Regions from separate parts of the Homo sapiens genome. Here all the other regions are reported to be linked to region 1. Evidence: microRNA targets listed by miRTarBase, many of them from high-throughput screens and not tested one by one. Region 1 holds a microRNA gene; each other region holds the end of a gene's coding sequence.
The links. Region 1 holds the annotated microRNA hsa-miR-519b-3p (AAAGUGCAUCCUUUUAGAGGUU, at 3,002-3,023, shown strand). A microRNA usually pairs through its seed, bases 2 to 8, with sites in the 3' UTR of a target mRNA and lowers its output. Matches are read on the target gene's strand: a 7mer-m8 pairs with bases 2 to 8, a 7mer-A1 pairs with bases 2 to 7 and ends in A, and an 8mer does both.

Region 1 (5,074 bases):
ATCTAAATGCCAGTTACTTGCTAAGATGTCAAATGTGTCTTATATTAGCTGTGGCTAATATAAGAAACTGTTGTAGACAAGATGAATCTCAGTCACAGTGATAAATGTAGCATGCAACAAAACCAGTTGTTTTCACAAAAATCTTGAGGACCCTAGAAGGGGCTCCCTCGTAACAGGTGGAATGCACAGCAGCTCTTCTTGTTGCCATAGTGAGCGATGCATGTTCTTCCAGTCCTCAACACCTTTTATTTATTTATTTATTTATTTATTTATTTTATTATTATTATTTTTTTTTGAGACAGAGTCTCGCTCTGTCACCCAGGCTGGAGTGCAATGGTGTGATCTCAGCTCACTGCAACCACTGCCTCCCGGGTTCAAGCGATTCTCTTGCCTCAGCCTCACGTGTCGCTAGGACTACAACCGTGCACCACCACGCCCGGCTAATTTTTGTATTTTTAATAGAGACAGGGTTTTGCCATGTTGGCCAGGTTGGTCTGGAACTCCTGACCTCAGTTGGTCCACCTGCCTCAGCCTCACAAAGTGCTGTGAATACAGGTGTGAGCCAACACGCCCGGCTATCAACAACTTTTCCTACGTAGAAATTATTCGGGCACTGGTTTATAGAACCTCACGTGGGTTCACGTAGAATTGAAGGGGACCTCAGCGTCCCTTGCAGATGGGATGTGCAATGTATTTGAGATGTACTCGAACATTGCTGTTGAGGTGTGGGCATCTTTTGCTTTTTCCTAATTTTAAATATGGGACTAGTCTGGGTATGGTGACTTCCACCAGTAATTCTAGCACTTTGGGAGGCTGAGACAGGAGGATCACCTGAGGTCAGTTGTTCGAGACCAGTCTGGCCAGCATGGTGAAACCCCGTCTCTACTAAAAATACAAAAATTAGCCGGGTGTGGTGGCACTCACCTGTAATCCCAGCTACTCGGGAGGCTGAGGCAGGAGAATCACATGAATCTGGGAGGCGGAGGTTACAGCGAGCAGAGATCACACCGTTACACTCCTGCCTGGGCAACAGTGTGAGACTCTGTCTCTAAATAAATAAATAAATAAAAATAAAAATAATTAGGTGAATATGGGACCAGCATGGACTTGGGTGTCGCCTTTGTGCAGTGGCCAGGATATTCTATGTCATTTAAATTTTTTTATGTGTACTTCCAAAGCAAGCAGTTATGTATAGGAATTATTCTTCCTATAAGCATGCAATATTTGGAACTTTCTTTGAGACAGGGTCTCAAAAATACATGATGTATATTTCATTTTATATTCTTATATATTATGTACACACAAAATACTCTTCTAAACACAGAGAATACTCCGATATCACCTAGGGTGTGTGTGCGTGTGCGTGTGTGTGCGTGTGTGTGTGGTTCTTTTCTGAGACAATATCTGCCTCTGTCACCCAAGATGGAGTGTGGTGGTGCAATCTCGGCTTACTGCAACCTCCACCTCCCACCTAAGCCTGCTGAATTAGTCTCTACAGGCATGCACCACCACACCTGGCTAACTTCTGTAATTTTTGTACACATGGGGTCTCGCCATGTTGCCGGGGCTGGTCTCGAGCTCCTGAGGCAGGTGATCCTCCTGCCTGGGCCTCCTAAAGTTCGAGGAGTTAGAGGTCTGAGCCACTGGGCCCCACTTGTACTTGTGTATTTCTGCTCAAATTTTATTGAGTAGTTTTTACATCCTAGCCTGTGATCTACTCTGGAGAGTGTTTGTGCATATGACAGTGTATATTCTTCAACATCGTAGACTCCATTTTGGATGCTCCCTTCGTGACTGTGGGTCCTGTACTGGAACTCGAGTGAACACTTGGCTTAAAATCCATTGCTGTTCTCCAGAAATCCTGCCCAATTTTCTCGGTTAAAGGTACGTGTAGTAGGCATTGCTTTTTCTCTTTGGGGACAAAACTCAGGAGGATTGCCCCTTGATGAACAAGGCTAACCTGCTGATTCTTTGAAGCAAGGAACTGGAGATGGTCCTTATAGAGTTTTATATTCTGGATTCCATAAAACATGCATACAGGGTCAATAAATGCATCTTTATTTTTGTGTCTATTTTAACTTGGTCAAAGAAAATTCCAGGAAAAAATCCACGGCATCAGAGCAAGAAGATGTCAGGCTGTGACCCTCTTGAGGGAAGCACTTTCTGTTGTCTGAAAGAAGAGAAAGTGCTTCCTTTTAGAGGCTTACTGTCTGAGAAAAGCAACGTTGTAGTTGATGCTGATCTTTGTAATATCTTTGCAGAGCACGCTTATAATCAGACTTGGATGATGTTGGGGTTTTGTTTTTCTTTTGTTTTTTTATCTAAGACTGGGTCTCTGTTGCCCAGGCTGAAGTGCAGTGGCACAATCTTGGCTCACCACAACCTCCGCCTCCCGGGTTCAAGTGATTCTTCTGCCTCAGCCTCCCAAGTAGCTGGGATTATAGGACTGCGCCACCATGCCTGGCTAATTTTGTATTTTTAGTAGAGACAGGGTTTCTTTAGGAGCTTTTAAGGCCTCCCTTGTAGTCTATCCTGGAGGATGTTTGTGTGTGCAACAATGTATATTCTTCAACATGGTAGATTCCATTTTGACTGCTCTAATCAGGACTGTGTGTCCCTGTGCTGGAAATCAAGTGAACACTTGGCTGAAAATCCACTGCTGTTCTCTAGAAATCCAGCCCAATTCTCTTGGTTAAATATAAGGTATGCATAGTAGGCATTGCTTTTTCTTTCTGGACACAAAACTCAGGAGGATTTCCCCTTGATGAACAAGGCTAACCTGCTGAGCCTTTGTAGGAAGGAACGGGAGATGGTCTTTTTAGGGGTCTATGTTCTGGATTCCAGAAAACATGCAAACAGAGCCAATAAATAGGTCTTTATTTTTGTCTCTATTTTAACCTGGTCAAGGAAAATTTCTACAAAAAACCCAGGGTGCTGGAGCAAGAAGATCCCATGCTGTGACCCTCTAGAGGGAAGCGCTTTCTGTTGTCTGAAAGAAAAGAAAGTGCATCCTTTTAGAGGTTTACTGTTTGAGGAAAGCAACAGTGAAGTTGATGCTGATCTTGGTAATACATTTGCAGAGCATGCTTATCATCAGACTTGGATGATGGTGGGATTCTGTTTTTATTTTGTTTTTTTTTCTAAGACAGAGTCTCTCTTGCCCAGGCTGGAGTAGGGTAGCACTTCCAACGTAGATCTTTTAGGCTCAAACGGTCCTCTTTTTTTTTTTTTTTTTTTTGAGGCGGAGTCTTGCTCTGTGACCCAGACGAGAGTGCAATGGCGCGATCTTGTGTGCAAGCTCACCTCCTGAGTTCAAGCAATTCTTCTGCCCCAGCCTCCCAAGTAGCTGGGACTACAGGTGCCTGCCACCACTTCCAGCTAATTTTTGTATTTTTAGTAGAGACAGGGTTTCACCACGTTGGCCAGGCTGGTCTCAAACTACTGACCTCAAGATCCACCCACCTCAGCCTCCCAAAGTGCTGGGATTACAGGCGTGGGCCATTGTGCCCAGCGGTCCTCTTTTTTGAGATGGAGTCTTGCTCTGTGACCCAGGCTGGAGTGCAGTGGCAGGAACTTCGCTCCCTGTACCCTCCACCTCCCAGATTCAAGCCATTCTCTCCTGAGTCAGCCTCCCTAGTAGCTGAGATCGCAGACATGAGCCACCATACCCAGCTAATTTTTGTATTTTTATTATTTATTTATTTACTCATCGATTTTTGAAACAGAGTCTTACTCCGTCCATCAGGCTGGAGGTCAGTGGCACAATCCCACGTTCAAGCAATTCTCCTGCCTCATCCTCCCGAGTAGCTGGGATCACAGGCGCACACCACCACGCCCGGCTAATTTTTGTGTTTTTTTTGTTTGTTCGTTTTTTTTTTTTTTGTAGAGACAGGGTTTCAACATGTTGGCCAGCCCAGTCTCCAACTCCTGACCTTAAGTGAGCCCATACACAATCAAGAAGAGAGCGAGACCTGTTCTTTTTTTCTGTCTTTGACTATTTGAGACAGTCTTGCTCTGTCACCCGAGATGGAGTACATTAGTGTGATCTTGGCTCACTGCAACCTCTGCCTCCTGGACTCAAGCAATTCTCTTTTTTTTTTTTTTGGAGAAAGAGCCTCTCTGTGTCTCCCAGGCTGGACTGCAGTGGTGTGATCTCAGCTCACTGCAACCTCAGCCTTCCAAGTAGCTGGGATTGCAGACATGTACCCCCATACCAGCTATATATATATATGTATTTTAGACACAGTTTCACCATGTTAGCCAGGCCATTCTTGAATCCTGACCTCAGGTGATTTGCCGACGTAGGCCTCCCGAAGTGCTGGGATTACAGGTATGAGCCACTGCACTCAGCCTTTTTTCCTAATTTTGAATATGGGACCCATTATGAATTTGGGTGTCACCTATGTGCGGGGGCTATGGAAATCTCTGTCACCCCATTCATTTGTGTGTGCTGTCAAAGCACCAATATGTGGGAATTATGCTTTATGTGAGCATATAGTATATGGAACTTTGGTTTTTTTTTATACAGGGTCTCAAAAAAAAATGAGTATATTTCATCACAATGTTCTGTGTATAATTCCATACACACAAAATAGTCTTCTATACACAGAGAACACTCTTATATCACTTTGGAGTTGTTTTTGTTTGTGTATTTTGTTTTAATTTTTATGAGACAGGGCCTGGCTATGTCGCTGAGGCTGGAGGGCAGTGGTGAGATCTTGGCTCACTGCAACCTCCACCTGCCACCTCAGCCTCCTGGATTAGTGTCTACAGGCAGGCACCACCACCCCTGGGTAAGTTCTGTATTTTTGGTACTGATGAGGTTTCAGCACGTTCCACAGGCTGGACTCTTAACTCCTGCGATCAAGTGATCCTCCCGCTGTTCAAATTTTACTGAGGAGCTTTTAAGGCCTCGCCTGTGGTCTGTCCTGTAGTGTCCCTGTCCTGGAACTCAAGTGAATACTTGGTTTAAAATTGATTGCTGTTCTCTAGAAATCCAGCCCAATTCTCTTGGTTAAATATAAGGTATGTGTAGTAGGCACTGCTTTTTCTTTCTGGAGGCGAAACTCAGGAG
Region 2 (5,068 bases), not on the chromosome of region 1:
TTAATGATAACTCAGCAAGCCATTCAAGCAAGACCTTGTCTGATCTCTACCAGGCAAATCTTGTTTGCTATCTTACACGTGCAACACAAGTAAAAACTCTTGTGTTGTTTCGAATGTGCCAGAGGATCACTCACTCTCTCACTGTAATGGAGGATGGAGAATAATAGGCTGGGGGGGACATAGATGTCTCTCTCTCTAGGACCCTGCTCTCCTTCCTCCAGGCCTTGCCAGTACAGTCACCTTACAGCTGTCTTTGCTTCCCTCTCTTCTCTGCAGAAAAGAAGGACACAGTGTTGCGGCAGGTACGCCTGGACCCCTGTGACTTGCAGCCTATCTTTGATGACATGCTCCACTTTCTAAATCCTGAGGAGCTGCGGGTGATTGAAGAGATTCCCCAGGCTGAGGACAAACTAGACCGGCTATTCGAAATTATTGGAGTCAAGAGCCAGGAAGCCAGCCAGACCCTCCTGGACTCTGTTTATAGCCATCTTCCTGACCTGCTGTAGAACATAGGGATACTGCATTCTGGAAATTACTCAATTTAGTGGCAGGGTGGTTTTTTAATTTTCTTCTGTTTCTGATTTTTGTTGTTTGGGGTGTGTGTGTGTGTTTGTGTGTGTGTGTGTGTGTGTGTGTGTGTGTGTGTTTAACAGAGAATATGGCCAGTGCTTGAGTTCTTTCTCCTTCTCTCTCTCTCTTTTTTTTTTAAATAACTCTTCTGGGAAGTTGGTTTATAAGCCTTTGCCAGGTGTAACTGTTGTGAAATACCCACCACTAAAGTTTTTTAAGTTCCATATTTTCTCCATTTTGCCTTCTTATGTATTTTCAAGATTATTCTGTGCACTTTAAATTTACTTAACTTACCATAAATGCAGTGTGACTTTTCCCACACACTGGATTGTGAGGCTCTTAACTTCTTAAAAGTATAATGGCATCTTGTGAATCCTATAAGCAGTCTTTATGTCTCTTAACATTCACACCTACTTTTTAAAAACAAATATTATTACTATTTTTATTATTGTTTGTCCTTTATAAATTTTCTTAAAGATTAAGAAAATTTAAGACCCCATTGAGTTACTGTAATGCAATTCAACTTTGAGTTATCTTTTAAATATGTCTTGTATAGTTCATATTCATGGCTGAAACTTGACCACACTATTGCTGATTGTATGGTTTTCACCTGGACACCGTGTAGAATGCTTGATTACTTGTACTCTTCTTATGCTAATATGCTCTGGGCTGGAGAAATGAAATCCTCAAGCCATCAGGATTTGCTATTTAAGTGGCTTGACAACTGGGCCACCAAAGAACTTGAACTTCACCTTTTAGGATTTGAGCTGTTCTGGAACACATTGCTGCACTTTGGAAAGTCAAAATCAAGTGCCAGTGGCGCCCTTTCCATAGAGAATTTGCCCAGCTTTGCTTTAAAAGATGTCTTGTTTTTTATATACACATAATCAATAGGTCCAATCTGCTCTCAAGGCCTTGGTCCTGGTGGGATTCCTTCACCAATTACTTTAATTAAAAATGGCTGCAACTGTAAGAACCCTTGTCTGATATATTTGCAACTATGCTCCCATTTACAAATGTACCTTCTAATGCTCAGTTGCCAGGTTCCAATGCAAAGGTGGCGTGGACTCCCTTTGTGTGGGTGGGGTTTGTGGGTAGTGGTGAAGGACCGATATCAGAAAAATGCCTTCAAGTGTACTAATTTATTAATAAACATTAGGTGTTTGTTACTTAAGTAGTCCGAGTATATTTAATCGTTGAATTTCTTGCTTTGTACATGTCCTCTAGTTGTGACTCTTTGATTAGTCTTTTGCAAAAGTATGTGTGCTCTAAAAACCTCAGCTATTCTAATCTGTAAATCGTGGAAATTAGCAAAGATTTCAGGCAGGGCATCCACTTCCATTTTCTCACTGAAAGAGGAACTTAAAATTGCTAAGGTCTGGTTGTTGGAATTCTGTAGAGCCACAGTTCCCAAGCAAAGGGAGACATGCAATGAATATGATATGATATATGATATGCTATAATGTATTCTACAATTCTATAGATTTGTGTTTGGAAAGGTACCTGGAGGTTCGTAGGGAAGGACTTTAGTGAAAACTACCAAGCACTTCCTAGTCTTTTGGATTAAGTCTGAGAATTCAGTTTTTGAGATTGTCCTTATTATAGGAAATGGGTAGATACCTCATTGTTCCTGAATAAGTTCAGAGGGCTCTCATGGTCTTGAGGCAGGGTGAGATCTCATGTTGATAGAATATATTGTAGCATATCATATATCATATCATATTCATTGCATGTTTCCCTTTGCTTGGGAACCGTGGCTCTACAGAATTCCAACAACCAGAACCTTAGCAATTTTAAGTTCCTCTTTCAGTGAGAAACTGGAAGTGGATGCCCTGCCCGAACATTTGGACACCCACGTCAGCGACATTAAAGGGTTTTTCTGGTTTCATCCACTTCCACATGGTTGGTTTCTAGAGAACTATCCTGGTATTTAATTACACTGGTTCTTACACCAGGTTTCCCCGCCTTTTGTCAATAAAAGACAGGAACTCTTATCAGGAAGGAAAGCAAACTAGAATGGGTCACAGATGGTAGTGGAGGAGACAGCGTTTGCATTTCAGAGGATCTCAGAACTGCCACTAATTTCATGTGGGGGTAGAAAACACAAAGAATGAATGGTTATTATGATTAAGTTTGTGGGTTATTTGTACCTTGTGTCTTGGGATGCTTTCGTTAATAACTCACATTTACACAGGTTTATACTTTGCAAAGTGATTTTTGTATTACCTTATTGAATCCTCACAACTATAAGGTAGGTACTATTATTGTGTCCATTTTATAGATTTAAAAACAGGCTTATAAAGGCTAAAGAACTTGTGTAAGGCCTATAGCAAAGTTGTAGAGATCAGACTTGAATCCATGTCTTCTGACTGTCTGAATCCAAGACTGACTGTTCCATGTATTTAGGACCAGTGACCGGAAATTCCTTGTTGGCTGAAATAGTGGGCAGAGATCACAGTGATGAAATTTATTTGTCAGTCAGTACTTGTGAAAATATTGGAATGAGGTGACATCTGTTGATGATCCATAGGGAAGGAACATAGGAGATGTGGTTAAATGAAAGCTTAATATTGAACTAACATGATATATAGCTTTTCTAAAAAGAATGGAACCTCCAGCCGCATTATTAAAAAATCAGAAGTTCTGATCAGAGCCGATGATAGTGTCATTTGTATACTGTGTGGCACACTTTAGAGCTTTCCTCTAGCTTTGGCCTGTCTTACTGTGAGGAGTATGGCTGAAGTGAAAGGTTTCCAGTGTGTCGTGGGGACATAGGGGGATACCAGGAAGAGTAAGAAACAGAATCAGGAGCAACTGTTGGCAAATCTAAGCCTGACAATGAAGACCAGGCAACAGGAGAAAGATTAGCTTCAGTTATTTGAAGGGCTAAGGAAGAGATGATGTATTTTTCTCTAGAGGATAATATACTTTCCTCTAGGCTGATGTAGGCTAAGTGCAATTAGACTGAGCTGCTTTTCAAATAAGAGAATGAGTCCTGCTCTGGGAAAAAGTTGGGCCTGCATCAGTGGTTCTCAAACTTTCATGTAAATAAGAATCATCTGGGAATAAGCAGTCAATTAAAAAGGCAGATTCGGAGAGAATTCAATTCAGGTTTGTGGTGAATTCCAGAATGAGTTTCCTACACTTACAGAAAGTGCTTTAGATCCTTGCCACTGTGGATGAGGACCGGCAGTATCCATAATACTAGGAAGCATTGTGTTAGGAATGCAGAATTTGAGGCCACTGTGTTGTGCTCCCTAAACTTGAATATGCAACTGAAACACCTGGGTATCTTAAAGGCAGATTCGGTTTTAATTGTTCTGTGGGACTGGGCTGAGGCTGCATTTCTTTCTTTCTTTCTTTCTTTTTTATTTTTTTTGAGACGGAGTCTCTCACTCTGGAGTGCAGTGGCAACGATCTCGGCTCATTGCAACCTCCGCCTCCCAGGTTCAAGCAATTCTGCCTCAGCCTCCCAAGTAGCTGGGACTACAGGCACCCGCCACCACATCTGGCTACTTTTTTTTGTATTTTTAGTAGAGACGGGGTTTCCCTATGTTGGCCAGGCTGGGCTCGAACTCCTGACCTTGTGATTCGCCCGTCTCGGCCTCCCAAAGTGCTGGGATTACAGGCGTGAGCCACCATGCCCAGCCTGAGGCTGCATTTCTAACAAGCTCCTGGGTGATGTGGATGCTCCCGGTCATGAGATAACACTGGGTAGCCTGAAACAGGCCAATTATGCCTCAGTTTCATGCAAAGGGTAGCACTAATATGGGAGATTATACCACTTCCATGTGAGAGAAGTAAACAAATTCTGATGACCCAACGAGATTTCTAGAACCAGACAATCTTGGGCAAATTCTACAGTAGTGGGTCTTAATTCTGACTACACATTGAAATCAGCGGGAAAACTTTGAGAGACCCAATGCCCAGGCCATATGCAAGATCAACAATGTCAGAATCACAGGAGATAGGACTCAGGCAGCAGCACTTTTTTTTAAATTTTAAATTTTAAATTTTTTTTTATTTGGGGGGAAGCTTTAAAAAAAGGTTTACTTTAGGTTCAGGGGTCCATGTGCAGGTTGTATGTATATATATGTGTGTGTGTGTGTGTGTGTGTGTGTGTGTGTGTAAACTTGTCACAGGAGTTTATTGTACAGATTATTTTGTCACCCAAATATTATACTAAGCCTAGTATCTAATAGTTATTTTTTTCTGATGCTCTCCCCTGGCCACCATCCAACCTCAAATAGGCCCCAATGTCTTGTTCCCCTCTTTGTGTCCATGTGTTCTCATCATTTAACTTCCACTTATAAGTGAGAACATGCAGTGTTTGGCTTTCTGTTCCTGCATTAGTTTACAAAGGATGATGGCCTCCAGCTCCATCCGTGTTCCTGCAAAGGACATGATCTCATCCTTTTTTATGGCTGTATAGTATTCCATGGTACCACATTCCGTATGTACCACATTTTCTTTATCCAGTTTACCATACGTGGACATT
Region 3 (5,068 bases), not on the chromosome of region 1:
CCCATTCCTACCCCCACCTGCCTTATCTCTGGCAGCACTCTTTATCCTTGACTTCAGCACAAATACCACTTTTTCTGAGAGGCTATTCCTAAACGTCTAATGAAAACTAGGTTTCCCTTTACTCTTTTACCATGCTTTCATTTACAGCATTTATCACAATGATGATTGCATTTTCCTTTGTGCTTGCTTCTTAAATTTCACTGTCCCCCATTAGACTATAAGCTCCAGGGGTACAGGAACATGTTTATTCCCTCCTGGTATAAAGAGTACTTAGTACAGTGCCTGGTACAAAGCAGAAACATTGCATTTAGTTGAATGAATTAATGAATCCTATCTTCAGTACTCAGCTTTTAGCGAAGACTCGATACTTACTCAATGAACTGTCAAACTGCTAATGGTCATGTAATTAAAACAAAAATAAGACAGCTCACTGTACTCTAGTGAACAAGGGTCAGCAATGGTGCTTACAAATTTTCTCATCACCCCCCAAAATATTTATGCCATGTACTTTCCCCAAAATGTGACTTCATTAATTCAGCCAGTGACCAGAGTATCCTTACATCAATGAGTAAATATAAAAACTTTATTGGAATAGCATGTTAGCAGCAGTGAACAGGGCATGGCACAGAAGGTTTCCAAAACAAGTTTAGCATGAAGGATGCCATATGCTGTTGCCAACAACTAGAACACGGTGACTAAAGACACAGTTCTGAATGTCCAGCACAACCTCTGGCCTGCAACTATGTTCAGTGATGATGATAAACAAGGTGGTGACTTGGAAGGAATCCCTATGTCAAGTGAGAAAAAAAAATGATGTCTGACCTCCTTATATATGTAAAAAATATACCTTCAGAGTCCGTCAGTAAGCTGGAAGAAGTGGATGTTGAAGTTTTTAACATCGATGATGGGTCTCCAGTTGTTCATCAACCCATGGTGAAATAGCTGAACGGTTCTGAATCAAAGGTGATCCTAATAGTGAAGACATTAACATTGCAGAAAAAGTGCCTACAGATTATATGGTGAAAATACGTGATGGGCTTCTTGAAGGACTAGAGCAGTGTGTATTCAAAACAGAACAAGAAATCACGTCAGTTTATAAAAGCAAAGAGAGGTTTCTCAGACAAAAACATTGTTCATGAGGTAGATGACTCTGGAAGAAATACTTTAAAAAGCCACTGAGAAGAATGCCTCGTCTCCACAGGATCCACTTCCTAGCCTCTCAACTGCTTCTCATGTTTCTTCTCACTGAAAAAAATAGTGTCCAGTAATCTTTACTCCAACAGTACCGCCAGTGGGGACAGGAAACTTGCCGTGGCTGTTCTTGGTTGTGGCTGTTGTCTAACAGCTGGTGCAGTATCTGGTGATGCCCCTGTGCTGCTTAGTTACTTGAACGCAGTTTTTTCACTGTATTAATAGTGTGTCATTTTTTAATGTTAAGTATTTATGTGTGAAAAAGTGTTAAGAAAAAATGACTGTTTATTGGCAGCATATACACTCAGAGTCAGGAATGATAGTGATGGCAAAAAACCCGACTGTCCACATGCGTGGCTGAGATATCACTATGACATCTTTGCTTTTTGCTTTCTGATGGTTCAGCATACACAAACTTTGTTTCATACACAAAATTTGAAATATTGTATAAAATTATCTTTAGGTTATGTGTAGAGGGTATGTATGAAATATAAATGAATTTCATGTTTAGACTTGGGTCCCATCCTCAAGATATCTCATTATGTATATGTAAATACTTGAAAATCTGAAAAACTCTGAAATTCAAAATACTTCTGGTCCAAAGAATTTTGGATAAGGGCTGGGCAATCACTATAGTTAAGGAGCTGGAAACACACATTCATGCAGGAAGGAAGGAAAAAGGAAAGCTCTCTTGAAAATATACTACTTCCATGATGTTATCCTTCAAAGTGTAAACAACCTGCACATACTTCAACCATAATTACTAGAAGTGGGGAGAAGGGTGCACTTTCAGTAGTGCAACAATATATTTGCTATACTTAGTTGTATGATACGACTTTGGCTCCTGACTGTATCCATTTCTCCCTCTATCATCTGCACCTGGAATATTTTCTTGTTCTTTCTCTGCTTGTTGAAAGGCTCAGCTCAAATATCTGGTTATACTAACCAGGAACTAATTTGTTCTTCTCAACTCCAAAATATATTTCAACAGTAATTAACAATTTTTAGGGGAAGTACACAGGTGTTTAATAGAGATCCTAACTTTGGAGTTAGAGAGATTCAAGCTTTTCTACTTCTAGATATGTGACAAGGTCAGGTAAGGCAGGTTTCTTGGTTGTCCCCTTTTGCACTGTAAACAGAGTTTTCATTCACCGTCTGTTGGGGTCTTAGCTTCATTCACGAGTCTCCTGTTACAGCTGGTGCCTGCCTGAGGTAGGGAAGTCGATCTTCTACCCCTTGCACAATCATTAAGGGAGAAAGCTCCAAGTGTCCATTCTTTGGTAAGAATCATGAGGGAAAAAAAGGGCTTCCGCACTTCTCTCTCAGTATTCCTGCTTTTATTTCATTTTTTGACCTTTGTGGAATCCTTTTCATGTCTGTTTATCAAAAGATACTAACCTTATCCATCATTTTTCTTCATTTTTGTGATTTCAATTTGGAGGATAACCACAGAAATTACCTTCTGGTATACATAAATCTAGAATTAATATAGTTGCATCATTACCAAAAGTCAGAAAACTTCTAAGTACAGAGAAGAATCTTTGTCTTGATATTATTTTAGAGGGATAAGAAGCAAGAACGGAAATGCTAAATCTAACTCTATCCAAGGAATTTCCTCAACTGCCTTTCCCCAAACTCCCTGCCTTGGAAGAAAGATACCAAAGATGTGTGGAGAATGTTGCACCTAACTGAATTCTACCCATTTCTGAACCGAAAATGGGGAAATATAAGTTTTGAGAGCTAAAACTGTCTAGCACTTGGCTTCACTTGGTTTAATTCTTTTGAGATTTACTTTTAAATTTTTAGTTTTTTTTTGAGACGGAGTTTGGCTCTGTCACTCAGGCTGGAGTACAGTGGCATGATCTCAGCTTACTGCAACCTCTGCCTTCTGGGTTCAAGTGATTCTTCTGCCTCAGCCTCCTGAGTAGCTGGGATTACAGCTATTGCCACCATGCCTGCCACCACACCTGGCTAATTTTTGTATTTTTGGTAGAGATGGGGTTTCACTGTATTGGCCAGGCTGGTCTCGAACTCCTGACTTCAAGTGATCCACCCGCCTAGGCCTCCCAAAGTATTAGGATTACGGGCGTGAGCCACCACACCCAGCCTTGAGATTTAAATTCACCTATATATAATTAGCAAATAAATACTGCCATGAAAAAAGTATATACAACTCTGGCTGGGCGCAGTGGCTGTAATCCCAGCACTTTGGGAGGCTGAGGCAGGCAGACCACCTGAGGTCAGGAGTTCGAGACCAGCCTGGCCAACATGGCGAAACCCTGTATCTACTAAAAATACAAAAATTAGTTGGGTGTGGTGGCCAGCGCCTGTAATCCCAGCTACTCTGGAGGCTGAGGCAGAAGGATCACTTGAACCTGGGAGGTGGAGGTTGCAGTGAGCTGAGATCATGCCACGGGACTCCAGCATCAGCAACAGAGCGAGACTCCATCTCAAAAAAAAAAAAGTATACACAACTCAAGGTATTTAAACCTGAACCACTTTATAGATATTATAAATTAGAAAACCACCTACAATGCAACCAACAGCCACCACCACCAGGATGAAGGTCTGAAAGGAAGCACAGCAGGTTCTTGCTACCTACCAGGTCATTAATTGTATTACTTGCTCTGAGACGGGAAGACTCATAAGGTAATATGATACAAAATGTAGCTGATTGCACAAATGATGAAATAAAATCCTTCAACAGACAAATACTTCTTTGGTTGACAGTTTATTAAATACACTACATTTGTACCTTATTCTGTCGTTTTTTAAATTGTTCACGCATGAACTGAGTAAAAACGTACTTTATAGAAAACCAAGTGCAAAACTAAAATGAAAGAATGCACATATTGCACACATATGAAACTGCTGCAATGTTAGAAATTAATCTGTACAAGTACCTAATGAAGAAGGTTATGAAATATTAGGTGGTTCGAGTTTCTTAAATCTGGCACCAGACCATGACTTTGAAAGTGTTAATGTTGAAGTGTCGATGCAAAAATGTCTATTAACAAAACTGCTTAACACTGTTTGAGAAACAGGACAAAATAATTGTTTTTCTTTCACAGACACTTTTCTGAATCAATTCTCTACAGACTCTCTCCCATTCAGAATCAGTTGGGTGGACTGATGAGGCAAAAAATAAATTCCTTTTAAAAAACAAAACTGGAGCCTATTTACAAAACATGCAAAGGGAGAATTTTAAGCAGGTGTTACTGCAGAACTGCTCAGACGTGAATACAGCTGAGTGACAGAATATACCTTTACTTCTACAAATATAGGTCCTTCCTCCAGACTTTCTGGAAGAAATACATTTTCAGGGTGTGGACTATAAAATGGCATACAATGCAGAGACAGAAACAAAGAAGTTTGCAAATCTTTTATATTTCCAGCTGTTGAGACAGTATTTTTGAGGGCTGATGTTACCTCTAGCGGCGAAACCAGAGCCAGCTATTAAGCAGCCAGAAAGCTACAGTAATTGAATACATGACCATTTCTCTTTTAGCACGTTCTTTGTTCTCCTCTTCCAGAAGTTGTAGACGTCTATTTAGTTTGATTATCTAAGTGAAAAACAAACACACAAAAAATATAATATAGAGGCTTTAATGAATAGGGCAATCAGATTCTTATAAAGTAAGTAGTATAATAATTTGTCAACAAAAGTATTATTACAAACATGGAAAGTTTCATTTGGAGCAAAATAAACACAACTACACATAGAAAAACATGTCATTCATGACAGCTTAAATTCACTTAAACATCCTTTCCCTTTCCCTTCTTCAGATTTCTGAGTTAGGAAGGGTGTATTTCCTTCCTAACTTGATTACATAGTGAGGTGAGGAAGCGGTTACCTACTGTTATTCTGGCAGAAAAG
Region 4 (5,068 bases), not on the chromosome of region 1:
AGACCAGTCTGGCCAACATGTTGAAACCCCATCTCTACTAAAAATACAAAAATTAGCTAGGCGTGGTGGTCTATGCCTGTAATCCCAGCTACTCCAGAGGCTGAGGCAGGAAAATGGCTTGAACTGGGAAGGCGGGGGTGGCAGTGAGCCGAGATCACGCCACTGCACTCCAGCCTGGACAACAAGAGCAAAACTCCATCCCAAAAGAAATAAAAAAGTGAAGGAAGATAAATGAATCCTATAACTGCACAGAGCTGCTTGTGGTAGACATACAGATCTTTGTTTTAATTAAAATTTTTCCTTTTACAGTTTGTACATTCATGAATAGGTATTCATAGGCAGATTAGATTTTCCTAGATACAAAGATTAACAGGAAACAAAAAAGGAAATGGTATTATGGGGATAAGGCTCTATTTGTGCTGCAATAGCTCTGTAAACTTGATTATATTACCTGTTTAGGTGATAAATATGCGTACCATTAGACCAATGGACATGGAAACCATAGAAGCCAGTGTCATGAAGACAAATCATCTTGTAACTGTGGAAGGAGGCTGGCCACAGTTTGGAGTAGGAGCTGAAATCTGTGCCAGGATCATGGAAGGTATTTCAAAGAAACTGGTTCTAGAATACAGTCAAGCTATAGTAAACATCATGTACCTGAATACGTACAGGATAAAGAGATTGAAAGCTAGGAGTGGCCAAACGACTTCAACTTTAAACTTGTAAGTTTGGCATTTCTCTTCAGGCAGATATTTTTAAAAGCAAATCCAGAAAGCGGTTCCCCATAATTAGCATTCCTTACATTTTCTCTTCCTGGTCAGCCACACCTCTGTGCCAAGGTGGTAGTGCCCAGCTGGCATTTGCACTCTCTCAGTTGAGCCTTCCTTCTCCTAGGTCCTGCGTTCAATTTCCTGGATGCTCCTGCTGTTCGTGTCACTGGTGCTGATGTCCCTATGCCTTATGCAAAGATTCTAGAGGACAACTCTATACCTCAGGTCAAAGACATCATATTTGCAATAAAGAAAACATTAAATATTTAGTTTGGACTTGAATATCAAGTCGTTGAAATTTATTTGAAATACTTGCTGGCACTGCACCTGGATTTGTACTGCAAGACCTGACTATTCATAACGGAAAACGATTTCTAAAGCAACAGCAGGTATTTTTGTACAGGGAAGTTTAAATGTGTTTGTGTATGGAAAACTCTCCACTCTCCTCCCCTAGATGCCATGCTTCCTTTTGTCTGTTACGGTTGCCATGTTCTTTGAATAACAAATTATATAACATTTTATCCTCTCTCACCACAAGGACAAAGTATGGATGTGGCAGAGTCCTCATGAAAGATGTATCCAAACAAGATAACTTATATGTATAAAATTAAAGCATATAATATACATTTACTGTTAGTTTGTTTTGATAAGGAATAAAGGAATTTCTAACATGACTAATTTTTTTTTTTTTGAGACAATGTTTGGCTCTGTTCCCCAAGCTGGAGTGTGATGGCACAATCTTGGCTCACTGCAGCCTCCACCTCCCAGGTTCAAGTGATTCTCCTGCCTCAGCCTCAGTAGGAAATTAGCCACCACATCCGGCTAATTTTGGTGTTTTTAGTAGAGGTGGGGTTTCACCATGTTGGCCAGGCTGGTCTTGAACACCTGACCTCAGGTGATCCACCTGCCTTGGCCCTCCCAAACTGCTGGGATTACAGGCATGAGCCACCACACCTGGCCATGACTATTGTATTTTTATATTGAAAGAATTGGCTGGGCTGGGCGTGGTGGCTCATGCCTGTAATCCCAGTACTTTGGGAGGCCAAGGCGGGCAGAACATGATGTCAGGAGATCAAGACCATCCTGGCTAACATGGTGAAACCCTGTCTACTAAAGCCGGGCATGGTGGCATGCGCCTGTAGACCCAGCTGCTCGGGAGGCTGAGGCAGGATAATTGCTTGAACCCAGGAGGCGGAGGTTGCAGTGAGCAGAGATGGCGCCACTGTACTCCAGCCTGGACAACAGAGCAAGACTCCGTCTCAAAAAAAAGAATTGGCTGGGTGTGGTGGCTCAGACATGTAATCCTAGCACTTTGGGAGGCCGAGGTGGGTGGATCCCTTGAGTGTAGGAGTTCAGGACCAGCCTGGGGAACATGGCAAAACCCCATCTCTACAAAGAAAAGATAGATAGAAAAAAAAAAAGTCAATGTGGGTAGAAAACTTGAAATTCTATTTATTAAGAAATTAGTGCTGCCAGGCCACAGTAGCTCATGCCTATAATCCCAGCACTTTGGGAGGCTGAGGCAGGGATTGCTTGAGCCCAGGAGTTTGAGACCAGCCTGGGGCAACGTTGCAAAAACCCTGCCTACAAAAACAAAACAAAAAAAACAAAACAAAAAACCCAGGTATCTGGTGGTGTGCCTATAGGAGGATTGCTTGAGCCCTGGGAGGTCAAGGCTGCAGTGAGCTGTGATTGGGTCACTGCACTCCAGCCTGAGTGAAAGAGCGAAACCCTGTCTTAAAAATAACAACAAAAGAAATTAGTTCCATGTGGAAAATAAGCTGATACTGTACAAGACCATTACCTGTTTGTATTCATATATCTGAACTATCCAGAATAGTCAGCAAAACTGACTTCAGAAGGACTCAGGCCTCACAAGCCTCCATCAGGTAATCACCTAGGTTGCATCACACTTGAAACAGGAACTTCTCCACAGACTCTCCAAATGCCTAATTCTAATAGCATTCTCTTTAAAATTATGGCAAAGTTTATATCAGTTGTTTTTCCCATTTCCAAAGATCAGATATTCTGTCAAATACTGCCCTCCAGAAGCTGAGATGGAAAAGATGGGTTTAAATTAGTTAGAGAAGCATATAGGTGGTACCTAATTTAAGTAGCAAGGCAGGATTTTTAGTTCTTAGAGGAAAAGTGAGACACAAAAGAATAAGAGACAGGATAGGTAGGAAGGAAACCTTAGACTGTGTGAATCTATTCTTTGCTAACAACAGACGCTACAAAAAGTTCTCATTTGAAATATCTTGTCAAGCTACAGACAACACGTTTTCTTGACATGATTTTAATAAAAAATACAGCTGACATAACAGATTACATGAAACTATACACAATGACATTCTCTGCATAGTAACCAACACTGATGTGTGTACTTGAATTTTTAAATGGATTATTTATAATCCTTTAAAGTGCAATTTATTGAAAGGTTTAAGCAAATCAGGATAAAGGATCTTTCTAATAAATGACTAACATTAAAGAGATGCTATATTGATATATTTAGATAAATCTTTCAAAAATCATAATTGATTTCTATAGATGCCAAATTTACTTCTGTTGTAACAATGACCTGCCCCCCTCAAACCCCAAACTTAATTGCTGAGGATTAAGAAGATCCTCTAATTGGCAAGAGCTTTTTCTGATGTTAATATTTTTGTCTGTTTCAATACATCTAACTAAAAAGAACTATGGGTCTAGAGTAGTTGCTTTAGCAGCCCTGAGTTCTATAACCACAATGGTATTCCTGTTAGAACTTAAGAGAATGTTGTGAACGTTCCCCATTCTATTTGAGGAGAAAACAAAGAACTCAGTTGCTTTCTGATTTAGCAAAGTAACTATGCTTTGGGCTATAGTGTTAATGTCTAAGATAAAGGTAGCAAAAATTGGAGTTATCTAAGAATCAGAAAATGCTTTAGAGAAATGAACTGTAAGAGGAATGTTTCTAGGAGCTGTCTGATGGGGTAGAAGGGATTGCAACACAAAGGCCATTTACTGCTGTGATTGAATATTGTCATTGTTTTTCTGTCTATTTCCTTTAGTTGGTGAAAATATTTCAATATGCTGCTGTCCCAAAAGCCTGGCCATTAGAGGATAAACAAGACTCCTTTACAGGGTTAATAAAGGAGCAAGATCTTAAGGGAGCAATGCCAGCCTAACTTTATTCTGCTTAAAGAATTATTTCTCTCGAAAAGCTGCTTACATGAGCATCTGCAAAATAGTACTGTTTGTGGCTGTACTGGCTCAGCAATTACTTTCCCAGGAAGAGGGTAGTTTGGGGGGTAGGGGTGAGTAGGAATAAAAAAGAACTTTTCCCTCCAAGTGTAAACAGGAAGCTTCAGCCGATCTTCGGAGCACTGTGATCACAGGTTTTGGCTTTCCTCAAAGTTCCTTTTTGGAAATTCTGGATGGAGCTGAGCAAGGCCCCTCGGCTCATGCCATTCACAGCCTGAGACGAGAGCTGGGCAGGTGCCTCGGTGCTCGCAGGAGGCAAGGGAGCTGCTGGTGGTGGTGGAGGTGGAGGAGGTGGAGGTAATGCAGATATCCCTGTGGAGGAAAAGGGGGACAATCAGTATTCACCTCCACAGCTGCCCTGCACACACGCTGCTGCTCAGTCCTGAGCACAACGGACTGGTGAGAGTCCACATGTTTTTCTCAGAGGGACCAACATACCTAGTACTGTATGAGTTCTTAAAATACTAAAGAAAGCTAGAAGCATCAAAGGGGAATTAAAAGTTGCCATGTTTCTCAAACAATAGTCATGTTAAAGGCTGTTGGAACAAATAATTACAGATTACATGAAACCACATATGGTGACATTCTCTGCATAGATGAGGCTCTGACCCCATTTGCAAAGTAATAGTCCCCAAAGAAGAGTTCCATCTATCAGTTACTTTAGCCAGGTCCCAGGAAGCTCTGTCTGCTTCTGAGCTAGCAATTAAAGATAGACATCTGCATGATGGAGTTGGGCTTCCTGAATGTCAGTTATTCATAAGGGGTGAACAGTTCTTTCGCTGCTCCAACATACACAATGTTTGAAGGATGTGATCTTATGTAAAATGACAGACCACTCAGGATTCTCAGCAAGGAATCAGTGCCTCCTGGGTTATGCATTTCCCAGAGGAGTCTGTCTCGAATAATAATTTCCTATTAGGTTGCATTAAAGAAATATAAAATGCTAATAACTGTTAGCAATGCAAAGCAGGGGGCAGAGGGGTCTCTCTGCCATGGTATTCTTACAGAGAAATCCTTCTCAAGTACTGTTCTCTCCATTGTGGCCCAACCAAGGAACA

Region 2: miRTarBase lists TNFRSF21 as a target of hsa-miR-519b-3p. Seed matches in the 3' UTR shown: 7mer-m8 at 840-846 and 7mer-m8 at 1,357-1,363.
Region 3: the mRNA of MFF is a reported target of hsa-miR-519b-3p. Seed matches in the 3' UTR shown: 7mer-m8 at 4,012-4,018.
Region 4: miRTarBase lists PXK as a target of hsa-miR-519b-3p. Seed matches in the 3' UTR shown: 7mer-m8 at 3,189-3,195.

Annotation. Positions count from the first base shown.
Region 1 is chr19:53,692,262-53,697,335 of GRCh38, forward strand. MIR519B (microRNA 519b) reads left to right here and starts at 2,952; the gene lies at 2,952-3,032. It overlaps MIR526B (microRNA 526b), which reads left to right and starts at 2,132; the gene lies at 2,132-2,214. LOC107985342 (a long non-coding RNA gene) reads left to right here. Exons shown (of 3, transcript XR_007067332.1): 3 at 1,768-2,361.
Region 2 is chr6:47,228,203-47,233,270 of GRCh38, reverse strand. It overlaps TNFRSF21 (TNF receptor superfamily member 21), which reads left to right. Exons shown (of 6, transcript NM_014452.5): 6 at 277-1,739. The coding sequence ends at 506. Among named protein-coding and RNA genes, the nearest start is that of TNFRSF21, 79 kb to the left of the region's middle.
Region 3 is chr2:227,356,672-227,361,739 of GRCh38, reverse strand. MFF (mitochondrial fission factor) reads right to left here. Exons shown (of 9, transcript NM_001277062.2): 9 at 3,907-4,754. The coding sequence ends at 4,623. Among named protein-coding and RNA genes, the nearest start is that of TM4SF20, 20 kb to the left of the region's middle.
Region 4 is chr3:58,424,006-58,429,073 of GRCh38, reverse strand. PXK (PX domain containing serine/threonine kinase like) reads right to left here. Exons shown (of 18, transcript NM_017771.5): 18 at 2,947-4,322. The coding sequence ends at 4,114. PDHB (pyruvate dehydrogenase E1 subunit beta) reads left to right here. Exons shown (of 10, transcript NM_000925.4): 9 at 460-601; 10 at 895-1,444. The coding sequence ends at 1,040. Among named protein-coding and RNA genes, the nearest start is that of PDHB, 7.3 kb to the left of the region's middle.